Homo sapiens: one gene and its partner. The protein of the gene in region 1 interacts with the protein of each later gene in a pairwise test. Each region holds a gene or a part of one and is shown on either strand. Other genes may lie near its edges.

Region 1 (3,858 bases):
TGCATTAATTATAACTTGTTAAATGACTGAAAGACAAATGAAGATTGTATTATAACTGCTATAAATTAACTTAAAGTGAGACTGAGACTGGTAAATGGTATTAATAAAAGGTTTTTTTTAAGCCAGGTGTGGTGGCTCACGCCTGTAATCCCAGCACTTTGGGAGGCCAAGGCAGGCAGATCACTTGAGGTCAGGAGTTCGAGATCAGCCTGATCAACATGGAAAAACCCCGTCCCTAATAAAAATACAAAATTAGCCAGGCGTCATGGCGCATGGCTGTAATCCCAGCTACTCAGGAGGCTGAGGCAGGAGAATTGCTTGAACCCAAGAAGTGGAGGTTGCAGTGAGCTGAGATCACGCCATTGCGCTCCAGCCTGGGCAACAAGAGCGAAACTCCATCTAAACAAAAGTTTTTTTTAAATGTAAGATGTTAGCACTCTAAAAAGATGTAGTAGTTTGAGTGTGGACTCTAAAACCAGGCTGCATGACTTAAATCCCAGCTCTGCTATTTATAAGCTTTGTGTTCTTGGGCAAGTCGCTCTGCACTGTGCCTCAGAGTTTCCTTATCTGTACATTGGACAGAATATAATAGCACTTACCTCCTAGGCAGGATAAGTGGATTGAAAGAGTTTATGTATGTAAACCCCCAAAACAATGTCTGATACATAAGAATTAATCTCAGTAAAGGCTATGCTATGGTCTGAATGTTTGTGTTTCTGCAAAACTCATATGTTGAAACCTAATCACCAATGTGATGGTGTTAGGATGTGGATTCTTTGGGAGGTAATTAGGCTCTACCCCCATGAATGGACTTATTGCCCTTATAAAAGAGGCCCCAGAGAGTTGCCTTGTCCCTTCCACCATGAGAAAACACAGCAAAAAGGCACCATCTATGAACCAGAAAGCAGGCCCTCACCAAACACTGAATCTGCCAGTACCTTGATCTTGGGACTTCCCAGCCTCCAGAACTGTGAGAAATAAATTTCTGTGTGTAAGCCTCCCAGTTTATGGTATATTGTTATAGCAGCCCAAACTGACTAAGACAGGCTATTATTTTAACTTAAAACAATTACCCTACTTAAAGAATCCATGAAATGACCACGTAATTTTTAACTGCTCTGATAGCTCCTTTAAGAAATGAGAAAAAAAAAACCATGTTGTACATTTTTGGTTCATAAAGGAGTATGATATAAAAAGGTTACTGCTACTCACTAGTTTTATTTCTTAAATATTTGTTTATTGAAAACTCAGTTTTGACAACCAGATGGCATTGAAAATCACTAATATATAAGGTGAAAACATAACATCATATACAGCTCCCAAAACAGCTTCCTCTCTTACAGGCAAAAATGCCTAGTAAGTATTAACAGGACATTCTCTTTATTGACTATTTTAAAGAATAATTTCTAGACATTTTTCTATGATTTTCCCACAGAGCCTTGCACATGGTAGGTTCTCAATATGTACTTAGTGAATGAATGTCACCAGTGTCGTGACTTTAACACAGTTTGAATGAATTCTTAATGCCTTCTAGCCACACTATATAAATGTAATCAAGATGGAATTACATCAGGTTGTCAGATGCACAGCTTTAGAAAGGAAAGTTAGGGAAATAAAACACAAGTTTATATATATTAAATTAACACAACTTATTAAGTAAAGACATTTGAGTTAAAATGAAGCAAAAATTTAAAAATTATACTTACCTATGGTCTTCACTTGAAGTGATGATCTCATTATTTGAAGTTACTGAAGTTGTTCCAGACCCAACTAACATAGGCTGGTTTAAAAGACAGAAAAATGACAATGATTTTCTACCTTAAAATTCCATTAAAGAGAAAAATCATTAAAATTGATGAATACTTATATAAACACACATACAAATTGCTGATATATAAGATCTATCCAAATTTTCTTATAAACAGGAACACATAGTAATAAAAGTTTCAACAGCCAAAAATAAGCTCAAATTAACATTTAGGATAGTTTCCAATGCTCCAAAAAAATTTAAATGTTACTCAGTTTAAACTCCCATTTTATCTAAACTAAATACATAGTCAAAGATAAAAATAAAAGTTGTATTGGAACTCCTTAACTGTTCTCATCCTTTGAAGATTTGCTACTCTCTCTCACTCCATCCCCCTTTCTGCTCCCCACATACACACAAGAGCCATGAAGAACCCACCAAAGACTTAAAAATTGTGCCCTACTTCTGGCACAGTGGCTCACGCCTGTAAGGCCAAAGTAGGCAGATCGCTTGAACGCAGGAGTTCTAGAACAGCCTGGGCAATATAGCAAAACCCCATCTCTCCAAAAAATACAAAAAATTAGCTGGGCATGGTGGCATGCGCCTGTCATTCCGGCTACTCGGGAGGCTGAGGTGGGAAGATCACTTGAGCCTGGGAGTTTGAGGCTGCAGTGAGCCGTCACTGTACCACTGCTCTCCAGCCTGGGTGAGAGAAGGAGACCCTGTCTCAAAAATAAAAATAAAAATGCCCTACTTATCTAATGGGCTTGGAGGAGAGCCTTTGGTGAGAGGAAGGAAGGGATTCTATCAATCCTGGGACTGTCATAATGATTAGTATTCATCATTTTTAGTTTAAATATGTTATCTATTTTTTGAGACTTATTTATTTTTTGGGACATTATGACAATTTTTTTTTTTTACTCAGAAATACCTAGAAAAATAAAAAAGACAATAAAGAATACGAGTGTCAAGACTTGCTATTATATAATATGAACCTGGAATTTCTTCAAAATGTAGAAGACTGCCAAAACATCTTTAAGTCCTAGAAAGTCTTTCTCTACAAATGTTTCAAAATATCCCAAGAATTGCTCAATTCTAATGTATATGTCCAACTAACTATTTTGGAGAGTTTAGACAAGAATTAATACAGAAAATACTCCATACCTTTGAATCCTTTGGCTTCTTTTTCTTGCTTTTGTTTTTCACCTTGGTTGAACTAAACTAAAAAATGGGGGGAAAAATCAGTGAACACTCAAATAACAGCATTATGAAGCTCAACATAAAGAAACCATATGAGTTTTTACAGACTAGCCATAAGTTAAATGTACATAAAATGTTTAACAAAAATAACACTACAGTGTATCAGCCCAAGTGCTACGATTTATAATAGAAAACAAACAAAATTTAATAATACTAATGTATACTAAAATTAAGTTGTTCCAACATTTTTATCTTATTTTCCACAGGGTTGGACTGTTATTTCAAGTAATTAATCAGACTTTTAAGTAATTCCAGTTAGATGCCATAATAGTAAATTTATTATTAATATATTTCTTTTACTAAGCCAAACTAGACATTCTGCACCTGACCAGACACTGGGGCACAAACAGTGAATAAAGAAGCCTTCAGCTCCTTATGGAGTATTTCAGCTGTGTTTCCCTGCTTAGCTGGGCAATATTTGATGGAGCAGATTAAGACAAAATTTCATATAGATAGATGATTTGCTCCTGAAAATCAGTAAACAGGCATTTTTCTCTTTGAAAACTGCCACAATGTTGTGCTTTTCTCTATTTACTCACTTTCCTAAACTGAAGAATTTCTGAAGAATGAATAAAAGGCAACTGCAAACTACTAAGGAAGACAACTCTGGAACTGTTTTAACTTAAACGTAATTTAGAGCCACTCAAAACAAAGTCCCTTTGTTTTCCTTCTAGAGCAGAACATTAGAAGTTTAGTTATTAAAGACAACTTTTCATTTTTATGCCAGGAGATGAAGAACTCTTCCTTTCTTAATTAGAATATTAATGTTTATCAGCTCTGAAACTTTATAGAAATTGTCTAATTTAAGCCTCATAGTTTGCTGATTATTGCTCCAATTCCGAGAGGAAAAC
Region 2 (3,500 bases), on another chromosome or scaffold:
GAAAAGCTTCCAGGGTTTTTGGAGATGGGGTATCCTTGCATGGTTAGGTTTTAGATAGCTGAATTTTCTCTTAAAGCCAATTTTGTCCTCTTACCATCACTATGAAGCTATAAAATGGGATTCATAATTTAAAAAATATATATAGGAAAGTAATTTTTAAATGGAAATTTCCATTATTACATATCAATATACAGCAAAATTAGTAAGTTGTGGGGCTGTCTTAAATGGCTGTGTTCCCAAATATTTAAATAATATGTAAATGAACTTGTTTGTAATTTTAGGTTCATAAGCTGGCTTCCCTATTAATGAGAAATGGTAAATTATATTTTATAGATATGTGTTATTGATTATTCTTGGGGCATATATGGTTCAGCACTATATCCTTGCATAGTAGTGAAAATAGGAGCTTGTGAATGATCAGTTTTTCTGATGGCTAGGTCTGACCCAGACATTTCATTCCTTTCCATTACATGTAGTAAGTCAATCAATGAAGTGGTTTTGGTGTCTCTCACACACACACACCCCTTCTTTATTCAGAAAATTTTCAGTGAAGTAGTTTTGGTGTTTTTCACACACACACACACACACACACACACACACACACACACCCTTATTCAGAAAATTTTCCCGTAACACTTATCTCAGTTTTTCTTGAGACATATAATTCTTTTGATTTTTGTGCCTATAGAAAATTGGGGATAATCTGAAAGTGTTAACAATTTTTTTATAGGTTATTTTATCTGATGCTAGTGCTCCTGGTGAAGGAGAACATAAAATCATGGATTACATTAGAAGGCAAAGAGGTAAAGCTTACTTACCAATATTTGATTATATGTTCTATTTTTAAAAAGCCATTGCATAGAAAATACTTGGTATGAAGTGATATTCTTGTGGTATATAATATATTAATATAAATACATGTTTCTCTCTTGTTTAGCCCAGCCTAACCATGACCCAAATACTCATCATTGTTTATGTGGAGCAGATGGTAAGTTTCTTCTTTGGGATTTGCTTCTTTTGGATTAAACCATAGCAAGTTGATGGGTTGGTGTGCAGTAATGGATTATTCATGGTTACCTGGAAGTTCCAAAATGCCTTGGTTATTTTATGTTCGACAGGGAACTAGTATTGAGTTGCTGTTTAATCTGTGGTCAATGATCTTTAATTTCTTTTCTTCTTTCTTACATTTTTCAACCTTTTAACTCCCCATACCTTTAAAATGGAGAATTTCCCAAGTGTTTAATCCTTAGTGGCAGTCTATGTTGTAGGTCCACGTATCTAGAGGACTTCCTGTTAACTGGGAAATGCCAGGAAGTGTCAAGCTTTGGGGCTTTGCTGCTCATTTGGGTGCTCATTTGGGCTTTTCTTTGTGTTGGCATCTCATAGTAGTTTATGGTAAGACTTCTCTCAGAATACTCACTGTTCGATGTTTTTCTCATTGTTGATTGATAGCTGATCTCATTATGCTTGGCCTTGCCACACATGAACCGAACTTTACCATTATTAGAGAAGAATTCAAACCAAACAAGCCCAAACCATGTGGTCTTTGTAATCAGTTTGGACATGAGGTCAAAGATTGTGAAGGTTTGCCAAGAGAAAAGAAGGGAAAGGTAAGAACTTTGAGATGGTAGTTGCCTCATTAAAAAAAAAAATCTATTGTGGTAAAATGTATATGACATAAAATATCATTTCAACCATTTTAAAGTATACAATTAAATAGCATTAAATATTTGAGTTACCTTGTTTTTAAAATGGATGAAGAGAAGATTGTGGTTGATTAGTTCTTTATGTGCTTGTTCTGTTACCGTTACCCTTCACAGAGATGTATCTTTTTTCTTTTTTTTTTCTTTTGAGACAGTCTCGACAGAGACGAATCTTTTAAAGTACTTTAAAATAAACCTGCATTCAAAAACATGCACACACTCATCCTTTCTACTTAGCACTTTTTCTGATATTGCCTATATCTACACGAGGCTTAGTTCCCATAGATAATAATGCCCATAGCTTGTAATTTGTTTGTGGAAGTTATTTGTTTGAAATACTCTTCTTAAAAGGAACTACAACTTCTTAAGACTTTTAAGTTACTCCCACTTTTTATGTATTTTAGGTTCACTTGGTTATGTCCAGTCCCCTTTAAAGGGGCTTCTGTTTCAATAATATGGTGCCTCTTGAGTCATATGCTTTTTGAGGGGGGAAAAAGAATATGGTGCCTCTTTCAAAGACATCGTTAAGTGAAAAAAGAGATAAATATAGTGTATTATTTCAGATATGTAATACAATAAAGACAGTATACATGTATCTATGCACATCTGTTCACAAGGAAGGGGTAATCATTGGTTGGGTATAGGTCATCAGTTGGCAAACTTCAATCCTCCAGGTTTGGCCTGTGAGCTATGTTTTTTACATTTTTAAAGTGTTGTTAAAAACAAAATAAAACATGAAAGACTATTAAACAGAGATCATATATGTCCCCCAGTAGCCAAAATAATTTACTGTCTGGCCCTTTGCAGAAAATGTTTGCTGACCCCTGATCTAGACGTGGTTGATTTTATGGGTAATTTTTATTTTAAAATGCATTGGTGAGCTTTTAAAAATTAAATACTTGTGATATTAAAATGGATTGTGCGTTAGAAAAAGCCTTAAAATTTGCTTGGTTGGAAAAAATTACTGGACGTAGAGTAGACTTGTTTCATCTTCATTCCTGTTCTTGCAGCATGATGAACTTGCCGATAGTCTTCCTTGTGCAGAAGGAGAGTTTATCTTCCTTCGGCTTAATGTTCTTCGTGAGGTATGTAGCAATAATCATTGAAATCAGCACTCTAAAGCAGGGTGCCTTTGATAGCTGTAATGGCAGCATTCCTTTTTGGTTGTAGTATTTGGAAAGAGAACTCACAATGGCCAGCCTACCATTCACATTTGATGTTGAGAGGAGCATTGATGACTGGGTTTTCATGTGCTTCTTTGTGGGAAATGACTTCCTCCCTCATTTGCCATCGTTAGAGATTAGGTATGTGCATTTGTGTAGCTTTTCAAACGACTGTTTTAGGCTTCTTGACTTTACTGTGCCTACTGGTCCTAATGCATAATGTTTGTCTCTTGCTGACAGGGAAAATGCAATTGACCGTTTGGTTAACATATACAAAAATGTGGTACACAAAACTGGGGTAAGTTCATTCTTGAATGATTTCAAAACAGAAGTATTTGCTTTTATAAGAAGATCATTTTACATATATTTTATCACTTACAGGGTTACCTTACAGAAAGTGGTTATGTCAATCTGCAAAGAGTACAGATGATCATGTTAGCAGTTGGTGAAGTTGAGGATAGCATTTTTAAAAAGAGAAAGGATGATGAGGTAAAGTGTTTCTATTGCAGTAGCTAAAATTGCTCCTGTCTCTAATAGGCTATGATGATCCTGTGATTACTTTTAATCTCTTTGAGTGTGTTTTTATATCATTATGGTGTGTCAACACTAATGTAATCATGAGTGGTCAGTGCTT

What was found. Proteins that work in one complex are often made in the same cells at the same time.
Region 2: the proteins of TTC3 (region 1) and XRN2 interact in a two-hybrid assay, tested with the Homo sapiens proteins (one large-scale study listed by BioGRID and IntAct).

The regions. Positions count from the first base shown.
Region 1 is NC_000021.9:37,159,912-37,163,769, reverse strand, and holds part of TTC3 (E3 ubiquitin-protein ligase TTC3), read right to left. Parts: intron 2,969-3,858; coding exon 2,912-2,968; intron 1,781-2,911; coding exon 1,707-1,780; intron 1-1,706. UniProt on the Homo sapiens protein: E3 ubiquitin-protein ligase which catalyzes the formation of 'Lys-48'-polyubiquitin chains. Mediates the ubiquitination and subsequent degradation of phosphorylated Akt (AKT1, AKT2 and AKT3) in the nucleus.
Region 2 is NC_000020.11:21,330,831-21,334,330, forward strand, and holds part of XRN2 (5'-3' exoribonuclease 2), read left to right. Parts: intron 1-730; coding exon 731-803; intron 804-937; coding exon 938-988; intron 989-1,452; coding exon 1,453-1,610; intron 1,611-2,713; coding exon 2,714-2,788; intron 2,789-2,873; coding exon 2,874-3,007; intron 3,008-3,106; coding exon 3,107-3,164; intron 3,165-3,247; coding exon 3,248-3,355; intron 3,356-3,500. UniProt on the Homo sapiens protein: Possesses 5'->3' exoribonuclease activity. May promote the termination of transcription by RNA polymerase II.